2 separate regions of the Homo sapiens genome follow, and region 2 is linked to region 1. The links come from fine-mapping of genetic effects on gene expression. A gene starts in region 1. The other region holds a variant in brackets. All regions are shown on one strand. Distances are from middle to middle.

What was found.
Region 2: its variant is fine-mapped to the expression of TMPRSS6 in nucleus accumbens (GTEx, PIP 0.93).

Annotation. Positions count from the first base shown.
Region 1 is chr22:37,107,443-37,112,819 of GRCh38, reverse strand. TMPRSS6 (transmembrane serine protease 6) reads left to right here and starts at 3,107. Exons shown (of 18, transcript NM_001374504.1): 1 at 3,107-3,317. RefSeq lists an enhancer at 4,376-4,877.
Region 2 is chr22:37,068,731-37,074,107 of GRCh38, reverse strand. It overlaps TMPRSS6 (transmembrane serine protease 6), which reads left to right. Exons shown (of 18, transcript NM_001374504.1): 13 at 463-576; 14 at 3,076-3,192; 15 at 3,456-3,624; 16 at 4,764-5,035. Among named protein-coding and RNA genes, the nearest start is that of KCTD17, 20 kb to the right of the region's middle. The variant C/G (reference allele first, on the strand shown) is at 2,756.

The DNA.
Region 1 (5,377 bases):
TTTTTTGTACAAACAGGGTCTCACTATGTTGACTAGGCTGGTCTCAAACTCCTGGGCTGAAGGGATCCTCCCTCCTTGGCGTCCCAAAGTGCTGGGATTACAGGTGTGGGGGTAAGCCACTGCACCCAGCCACGTCTGTGCTTTCAAACACCTCTCTCAGCATTTTGCTGCTGCTTGCTTATTGCCAGCCCCTCCCCCCAGGCCATGTCGGATCGATGGCCAGGTGGCCGCCAGGTCTAGAGGACGTCGATTGTGCAAGATCGGCTTTTCAGACTGTCGGGCTAGCAGCCTGGGCTGGGGGCCTGGGCCTTTTGACCTTCCAAAGGACAGGATGGGGTACAGAGGCTAGGATCGGGGTGTCTTCACCCCCTACACAAACACACTATCCCTGCTCTGTCTCAAGCATCTGTCCCTCAGGAAGTTTGCAAGGTGGGGCCCAGGGCCTGGGAAGAGGGGAGTTTATGGGGAGGAGGCAGAGTTGTTGGGGCTGGGACGAGGGACAGTGGGCAGGGCTATGGTGTTCGGTCTCAGGGTCAGGGTCAGGCCCATGGGCAGGGGCCAGGACTCTGGGGAGGGCCACAGGAGAAGGTGAGGGAAGGTACCCCCTAACCCAGAATCCTAACCAGCCTGACAGTGCGCCCTCCTGCCCTGGCCCAGCCCTGGCTCTGCCTGGAGATGGTGCTGTACTGAGCTCATGCCCAGCCCCCATGGGCAGGGGCCTTCACACCTTAGGACACAGGGGTGCCCCCCACGCACATGTCAGGGAGGTACCTGCCTACTGCTACAGGCCCCCTTAGGGAGCACACGCCAGAGAGCATGGGGCATCTACGTGCTTGAGACATGCGTGAGGGGCCACACAGGTAGGCACCACACACATGCCACCTGTCATTGCCTGGACTTCAGTGCACAGGCACACCTGGCCCCGACACACCAGCGTGTCACCATGAGAAGAGGAGAAACCCGCTCTCGGCGCCCCCCACAGTGCTGGGCCTTCGCACACGTTGTTTCCCGTTCATCAAGAAGGGGCGAATTTTTTTCATTCGACAGATGGAAGAAGCACCGCTCAGAAGTCAGGGAATCTGCCCAGGTTCCTACAACTAAAAGGGAGCCAGGTAGGGCTGAAAACCGGCGGTCACGGCAAAGCCCGGGCGCGGGGCCCTGTCCCATCCCAGCCAATCCATAAGCATCTCACACTTCACACCCGCTGCACACTCCACTCACACGCCTCACACTCCACACATGCCTCACGCTCCACACACACCTCACACTCCACACACGTCTCACACTACACACACGCTTCACACTCCACACATGCTTCACACTACATACACCTTACACTACACACACACCTCACACTATGCACACACCTCACACTAAACACATGCCTCATATTCCACACATACTGTGAGCATGCACACACACACACACACAGCTGCACACACCTCTCATGCTCCATACACACCTCACACCATACGTACCTCAAAGACACACACACCTTACACTGCACATTCCCAGCACCCACACTGCACACACATGCACAGTCCATATGCCCACACAACACACTTCACACACCCCCCACCCCACACCATACAAACCTCACAGACACACCTCTCACACAAATCTTATACCCCACACACAATCCCTACGCTCCACACACACACACACACACACACACGCACATTCTACACATACATAATCTACACACACAAATTCCAGACTGTCTCTCTTACACACACACTCTGGGACCCATATGCCCACAGCACACAGCATCTCAGGCGTGCACCCCGCATTCTGGCCTCAGGATGTAGACTCGCTGAAAGTCAGCCTTGTCTGAGACAGACGCCCGCTGCCCTGCACGCACCCTAGAAAGCCCTGGCTCCCATCCGGCACTTCGGCACGCATATGGCTCAAACCCATCTCCACAGCAACGCTGTTCCATAGAACAACAACGCAGGTCACACTTGTGACTTAACCTGTCTAATATCCACATGCAACAAGGGGTGTGGTGGCCCGCGCCTGTAATCCCAGCTACTTGGGAGGCTGAAGCAGGAGGATCATGTGGGCCCAGGAGCTCCAGACCAGCCTGGCAACCTAATGAGACCCTGTCTCTGAAAAAAAAAAAAACAAGAGAGCCAGAAGAAAATTGCTTTTAATAATACATTTTATTTATCCCATGATCACCAGTGTTATTTCAACATAAAATCAATATAAAAATTGTTATCGCGTTGGTTGACATCCTGTTTGCACTTGGCCTTGGAAACCTGGTGTGCGTCTCCCCCGTGCAGCTTTTCTCAGTTCAGACTGACTCAAGAGCCACGGGTGACCAGCGGCTACCGTCATGGACAGCACAGCGCTACGGAACCAGGTAGGAATTCATGCTGCGTGCGGTCGCTCATGCCTGTAATCCTAGCGTTTTGGGAGGTCGAGGTGGGTGGAATCACTTGAGGTCAGGAGTTCGAGACCAGCCTGGCTAACATGGTGAAACCCCATCTCTTCTAAAATTATGAAAATTAGCCGGGCATGGTGGTGGGCGCTGTAATCCCAGCTACCTGGGAGGCTGAGGCAGGAGAATTGCTTGAACCCGGGAGGCGGAGGTTGCAGTGAGCCGAAATCACACCACTGCACTCTAGCCTGGGTGACGGAGTGAGACTCCATCTTAAAAAAAAAAAAAAAAAAAAAAAAGAACGAGGTAGGAATTCAAATAATTCCCAGCTAAACAGAAAATAGCATCAAACCCCACCCCTGCCTCCCCTTTCTCCTCTCCAGTCCCCAGAGTATATGGGCCCAGCCTCCTTTTCTCTCTCTCAGGCCAGCAGCTCCTTTAGTCTCGCCTGTCCAGGTAAGCACCTGGACTCACCCTTGTGAGCCCCTGCACTCACCTGCACCGGCCTCTGCACAGTCCCCAGTCCTTGGCTGTCCCTACCTCATGCTCTCGGGGACCAGGGGCTGTAACCAGGCAGGCATGTCACCAGGCAACGGGCCTCGGGGGAGAGCTCAGATCTCCCGCACCTGCCTGCCAGCCTCTGGGGTGCCCATGCGGGGGTGGGGGAAGATGGGGCGGGGCAGGCACTGCCTTCTCCTACCTCCTGCCTGTTTACCTGTACTTAGTCACAGTGCTGTCCAGGACCCAGCAGGAGGAGTTCCATGGAGCCTGAGGCCACAGGCCACAGGGGACAAGGGCCAGACACCCTGGTCATGGCTCTAGGCCATTGATCCAGCCTGGGCTGGCTGGGTGGGGGTGGGGAGGCCTTGGCCTGGACAAACAGAGGCTCCTGAGGCCTGTGTGCAGGCCCGGCACCTATCTGCCGCTCCCAAAGGTAAGCGGGGGCCTCCAGGACAGGGGACCGGGATCTATAAATGACCTAGTGACAGTGTCCACCCTAAGAGCTGGGCCTGGCTCCCTGCAGCCTGAGCCACCTACCCTGCTCCGAGGCCAGGCCTGCAGGGCCTCATCGGCCAGAGGGTGATCAGTGAGCAGAAGGTGAGGGGCCCACAGAGCTGGGGAGGGGAGGGACCACGCAGGGTGACACCAGGTGTGTGGACAGGCACAGCATCAGTGCTGGGTGGTTGGTGGCCTGGGATTCAGGTGGCAGGGACAGGAGGAAGGGAGAGGCCACCCTACCCCTGCCTCGCAGGACTGGACATGCTGCCCCCTCCACACCCGGTACCCCACCTGGGCCTTCTGGTGTAGGAGACAGGCCCGGAGCCCCACATTGCACCTATGTACTGACTTAAGCCCAGGACCCTGGGCTCACAGGCTCAGAGTTGGCATGTATGTGTATGTGTGTTCGTGTGTGTGTCTGTGTAGGAAGGGCGTGCATCTATGAATTTTTGTGTCATGAATAGATGTGCGTATATCCCTCCGCGTGTCTCCATCTGTGTACATCTGTGGGTCTGTGAGTGTGTTTATATGTGTGGAAGGGACCCCCACCCAGTCCCCCACACTCTCAGGACTCTAGGGCCTAATGGTTTCACTGAAAGATGCCCCTATGGCCCTAGCCCAGAGTCCCTGCTCTGCTCTGCTCTGCCCTGGCTGAGGGACCTCGGGTAAGTCATGTTACCTCTCTCTACCTCAGTTTCCCCAGCCATTAAATAGAGTCAGCAAAGTAGGCACCCCAGGCTGTTGGAGGCTGCAGTGGAGTTTGCAGCACTGCCCAGCACAGGGCTGGCACATGGTAGGAGTTCATACGCAGTGGTTGAATCCGGATCTGCATTGCTGGGGGAGTCGCGGCCCCGCCCCAAGGAGCTCAGCCTCCAGCAGGCAGACCCGAGACCCTCCAATGGCCAGAAGGGCAGGAGGGAGTGAGGAGCAGGTGCCAGGGTGGGGTCCATGGTGCTCAGAGCTGGGGGACTGCTTCAGGCCCCTGTGGCAATTGGAGCACAGTCCCCGCTTCCAGGAGTTCAATGTGAGGGGCAAAGAGAGAGTGCCCACAGGTAAGCTGCACATCGCGAGGGGCAGCCGCCCCTTCTAGGGCACTCTGGGAGAGCTGCGAAGAGGTGAGGTCTGAACTGAGGTGACAGGGGCTGCATAAGAGCTGGCCAGGTTGGGAGGTGGGGGCCCAGGCAGAAGGAAGAGTGTGGGGACGCCTGGCCGTGAACAAGCACTGACAGGGCTCAAGGTCCACGAGGGCTCTTGGTGCCGGCTGGCTGCTCTTAATCCATAAATGTTTGCTACCATCCCATTGTTAAAATTTCTCACCAATGGAAGTCCAGTGTCCTTGGGGTGCGACGGGGAAAAGAGAGGGTGGGAAAAAAGGAGGCAGGAGAAGTTGGCCAGGCCACATATGCACACAGCACCTTGGACTTCTGTAGGGAGGAAGGAGCTGGGACCTTGTCATTCATTCATTTAACAATTACTGAGTGTCCGCTGAGTACCAGACTCTGCTCTCATGCAGCTTACAGACAGGGAGGAGGCAGATAAATGACATATTTGCATATCAGGCAATTTAGGCCTCTGTAATTGCTATAAAGAAAAATGCAGGAGAGACGGGAGTGCCCAGGGAAGGCCTCTCTGGAGAGGTGACATCTGACCCTTTGGAGGAGGTAAAGGAGGGAGCCACGAGGCCAGCAGAAAGGAAAACATCCCAGGCCCAGCAAGGAGCAAACCTCCCATTCAGCAAAGAGGACAGGAAAACTGAGACCCTGGGTCTTTAGGGACTGTGTTCTAGGTGGATGGAAGCCGTGCGAGGCTTGTGGGCAGGGCACATGGTGACAACACGCAGTGGCCATTGTGTGAGAACTCACTGGGTAGGGGGGTGGGTGATTGGCTATTGCAGGAGTCGAGGTGACAGATGACGGTGGCCTGGATGATGGTGGGAGTCATGGGGGGCCAAGAAGGGGCTGGCTTTGGGGGGCATTTGGAAGGTAGGGCCACAGG
Region 2 (5,377 bases), 39 kb after region 1:
GAAATGGGGTATCTCACAGGGTTGCTGTGAAACTTTGGGTGTAAAATAGCAGAGAAAGAGGCCGGGCGCAGTGGCTCATGCCTGTAATCCTAGCACTTTGGGAGGCGGAGTCGAGCGGATCACCTGAGGTCAGGAGTTCAAGATCAGCCTGGCCAACATGGTGAAACCCCGTCTCTACTAAAAATACAATAATTAGCTGGGCGTGGTAGCAGGAGCCTGTAATTAATCTCAGCTACTCGGGAGTCTGAGGCAGGAGAATCGCTTGGACCTGGGAGGTTGCAGTGAGATCATGCCATCGCACTCCAGCCTTCGTGACAAGAGCGAGACATAAAAATAAAGTAGCAGAGAAAGAGATTTGTGATTGGTAACGTGCAATACAGCACACCTTCTACAGGCATCGCCAAGCCCCGGCTGGCTCCTCTGGCTTCCTCCCACCTGTCCCCTCTCTGTGTCCCCACACAGTTTGCAGAGCCACATTCCAGTGCAAAGAGGACAGCACATGCATCTCACTGCCCAAGGTCTGTGATGGGCAGCCTGATTGTCTCAACGGCAGCGACGAAGAGCAGTGCCAGGAAGGTAGGGCAGGCCTAGCCGAGTGTCTGGAGGGACACCAAAGGCAGTCTAGGCCTGCTACATGCTTCAGCAAAAGTTTCTAGCTTCTCCTCTCAACACCCACCAACCCCTCTGTATTTACATCTGTATGTCTGTCCATTCATCCATCCATCCATCCATCCATCCATCCATCCATCCATCCATCCATCTTCTGGTCTCCAATCACCGTCTGTCCATTGATTCATACAGCTACCCATTTATCTATGCATCTACTGACCTGTGCAACCATCAATCTCCCTATCATCAAACTGTCAATCTACCCATTTATTGGTTTGGCTGACTACTGGTCTATATGGCCACTGTTCCATCCATCCATCCATCCATCCATCCATCCACCCACCCATCTACCCACCCACCCATCCACCCATCCATCATCCATCCGTCCATCATCCATCCATCCATCATCCGTCTATCCATCCATCCATCCATCCATCATCCATCCATCCACCCATCGTCCATCCGTCCATCATCCATCCATCCATCCATCATCCATCCATCATCCATCTATCCATCCATCATCCTTCCACCCATCCGTCATCCACCCATCGATCATCCATCTGTCCATCATCCATCCATACATCATCCATCTATCCATCCATCCATTCATCCATCCATCATCCATGCATCATCCATCCATCATCCATCCATCCATCCATCATCCGTCTATCCATCCATCCATCATCCATCCATCCATCCATCATCCATCCGTCCATCATCCATCCATCCATCATCCATCTATCCATCCATCCATCCGTCCATCATCCATCCATCCATCATCCATCCATCATCCATCCGTCCATCACCCATCCATCCATCATCCATCCATCCATCATCCATCCATCCATCATCCATCCGTCCATCATCCATCCATCCATCGTCCATCATCCATCCATCCATCCATCATCCATCCATCCATCATCCATCCATCCATCCATCATCCATCCATTCATCCATCATCCATCCATTCATCCATCATCCATCTGTCCATCGTCTATCCATCCATCATCCATCATCCATCCATCCATCCATCCATCCATCCATCATCCATCCATCCATCATCCATCAATCCATCAATCCATCATCCATCCATCCATCATCCATCGATCCATCATCCATCCATCCATGCACCCATCCATCATCCATCCATCCATCCATCATCCATCCATTCATCCATCATCCATCCATCCATCATCCATCCATCCATCATCCATCCATCCATGCAACCATCCATCATCCATCCATCCATCATCCATCCATCCATCATCCATCCATCCATCCATCATCCATCCATCCATTCATCCATCATCCATCCATCCATCATCCGTTCATCCATCATCCATCCATTCACCCATCATCCATCCATCCATCATCCATCCATCATCCGTCCATCCATCATCTGTCCATCATCCATCCATCCATCATCCATCCAACCATCCATCATCCATCCATCCACCATCCATCCATTCATCCGTCAGCCATCCATCCATCCATGCACCCATCCATCATCCATCCATCCATCCATCCATCATCCATCCATCATCCATCCATCATCCACCCATCCATCATCCATCCATCCATCTACCCATCCATCCACCCATCCATCCACCCATCCACTGATCTCCCTAGCCCCCTGTCTGTCCACTGGTCCTTATATCCACACGTTTATCCAACCTTCTAGCTGTCTGTCAGTCTCCCTAATGGACCACCACTCCACCCATTGGCTTGTCTGCTCAGTCTTCTGTCTGGGTCTATTTATCCATCCATCCATCTACCCATCCAACTGACCAACTGACCAACACTTGCAGGCTACCCAGCGATAGGCAAGGTGCAGTAAGGAAGTGAGAATAAAACAGCAGAGATGCAGGCCCTGCCTTCCAAGGCTCATCTGTTAGTAGGAGGATATGATGGGTGACTCTCCTGCCTTGTAGGAAGATTGGAGGGCAGGGAGGAGGTCAGACATGAAAAGCTTCCTGGAGGAGGTAGGTGTTTGGCCCTTGGTGAGAGCTAAAACTTAAATAGGCAGGAGGAAAGGAGAGAGGCAAAGACCAAGTGGTGGAGTGGAAAGTTCTTTACAGTGAAGAGCAGGGAGGAAAATGTGGACAACCGGGCAGGGCCAGAGCCTGGGAGATTGCCAGGCTAGGTG[C/G]GGACCCTGGTCTAAAAGTGGAGGCACAGTTCTGCCTTCAAGTTCCACACTGGAGGGGGAGGCATGATCTTGTGGTCAGGATCTCCAGTCTGAGAATGGAGACACCACTTTGTGCTCAATAGGCCAGTCTGAGTGGAGGGGCTGTGGGGGGCGGGGGGACATGGCCTGCTTTTAGGAGACCCTAAAGGAGACTCAGGAAAAGACTCTCTAGTCACCTCCTGGCTCTTCTGGCTCCATCGTTCCTGCACCCCACTTTGGAAGGTTTCCTTGGGGCTCAGAGACCCACCTTCTGTGCCCTGCCCCCATCCCCTCTGTCCCAGGGGTGCCATGTGGGACATTCACCTTCCAGTGTGAGGACCGGAGCTGCGTGAAGAAGCCCAACCCGCAGTGTGATGGGCGGCCCGACTGCAGGGACGGCTCGGATGAGGAGCACTGTGGTGAGCCCTGCCTGGCTGCCGGGGCCCTGGAGCTTGGGAGGGAGGGGGTGCCCACAGCAGGAAGCTGGAGGGAAATCTCACTGTTGTCCCCTGGTCTCTCTCTATCTCATCCTCTGCCCCCTTGCCTGGGTCCTGATGGTCTCTCCCCCTCCATCATTCTCCTGTTCTCTGTCTCTCCATCTCTTTCCTTTGCCCTTCCTCTCTGTCTGCTTCTCCCCTTCCCCTCCTCCTCTGTCCACCCCACCACCTGCCCCCATCCCCAGACTGTGGCCTCCAGGGCCCCTCCAGCCGCATTGTTGGTGGAGCTGTGTCCTCCGAGGGTGAGTGGCCATGGCAGGCCAGCCTCCAGGTTCGGGGTCGACACATCTGTGGGGGGGCCCTCATCGCTGACCGCTGGGTGATAACAGCTGCCCACTGCTTCCAGGAGGACAGGTGAGCGGGAGGGTGTGGGGGCCTAGGCAGTAAGAGACAAGGGCAGGGAAGGCCCGGTGGGAGGTGCACTGTGTCTGAGCTCTTTGCAGATAGAGGGAAGGGTGGTGGACCCCCCAGACAGGCTACTGTGATGTGAGTTCTAGTCCTGGCTCCACCAGGACCTTCTGGGTCCCCGGACACATTGTTCCACCTCTCTGCCATCTACTTTTGGTATCTTGCTTTAAGTTGGGCCAGTAATTCATTCATTCATCTCATTCACTCATTCAGCAACACTTGTGCTCCTACTATGTGCCAGGGCTGTGCTAGATGCTGGGGATTCAGTAAAGGACAGAACTGCCCAACCTGGTCATAAGCTATGACACTCCCCGAGGTGTGACACGAGGTAGCAGGTGGGGCTGGGGAGCCCCCAGGGGACATCTCATCAGGCCTCATGGCCATCTTTCCCATCTGCTTGGTGGGCTGAAACCTCCCCCAATCCACCCCCAGACAGATCTGGGCTCCAGATCCCGCCCCCAGGCCCTGCACAGGGATCCCCTTTTGTATCCTCTCTGGGACGCAGGGCGCTCTGACCACCTAGCTCTCTTTAACCCCATCTCAGGCTCCCCACTGCCCTCAGGTAGAGGGTAGAGACCCGAAGGCTGCCCATCTGCCACCCAGGCAGCTGACTGCCGCAGTCCAATTCCTCCACGCTCAACTCCCACCCGCTCCCCACTAGGACCCACCAGCCTCAGGGAATTCAGAGCAGCCTGGGTCTGTAAAGCACACAGGAAAAAAGAAATCTGTGTCGGGGGCCTGGCACTGTGCTACATTTTTTAGATACACGGTCTTATTGGATTCTCTCAAGAACATTCGAGTAGAAAATGCCATTCCCATTTGCAGATGAGGTGGCAGAGGCTTAGAGAGGCACACCCATGTCTAGGGAGGGATGAAGCTGGGGCGTGGAACCCAGGCAGGCCGAGTGGGTGAAGGCTGAACGCTGTACCACCAGCTAGGCGACCTTCAGGGAGGGAAGGGAGGGCTGGGTGTGGAGGGCACTGTCCCGGGCGGGGATCTGGCTATCTTGAGGGTCCCTGGATGGGGAGAGGCAGCTTCCTCCCACCTCACCTCACCCCACCCCACCCCACCCCACCCCACCCCAGCATGGCCTCCACGGTGCTGTGGACCGTGTTCCTGGGCAAGGTGTGGCAGAACTCGCGCTGGCCTGGAGAGGTGTCCTTCAAGGTGAGCCGCCTGCTCCTGCACCCGTACCACGAAGAGGACAGCCATGACTACGACGTGGCGCTGCTGCAGCTCGACCACCCGGTGGTGCGCTCGGCCGCCGTGCGCCCCGTCTGCCTGCCCGCGCGCTCCCACTTCTTCGAGCCCGGCCTGCACTGCTGGATTACGGGCTGGGGCGCCTTGCGCGAGGGCGGTGAGCAGCGGGGACTTGCGGCGGGAGGCGGAGGGAGACCGTGCGGATCTGCGCCGTAACACCTGGCCTGGAGAAGGGCGGGGCTGGGGGTCCCGGGGCTCCACCCCATAGGCCCTCTAGTGCTGGGATTCAAATTGGGCTGAATTTTACGGTAGAAAACCACCATTTAATGCGGCCTGTAGGCCCCTGCCCCTCCCCTCCTAGCTCTTCCCTTCCTTCTGGAAGGGCGTTATGTGTGGGGCAAAGGGGCAGGTCTGGGACGCCACTGCCCACGTGCAAGCTCCACCTGCTGTTCCTTGGGCTGCAAGGGTGGAAGGCTCTTAATTACTAGCACTTTCCACA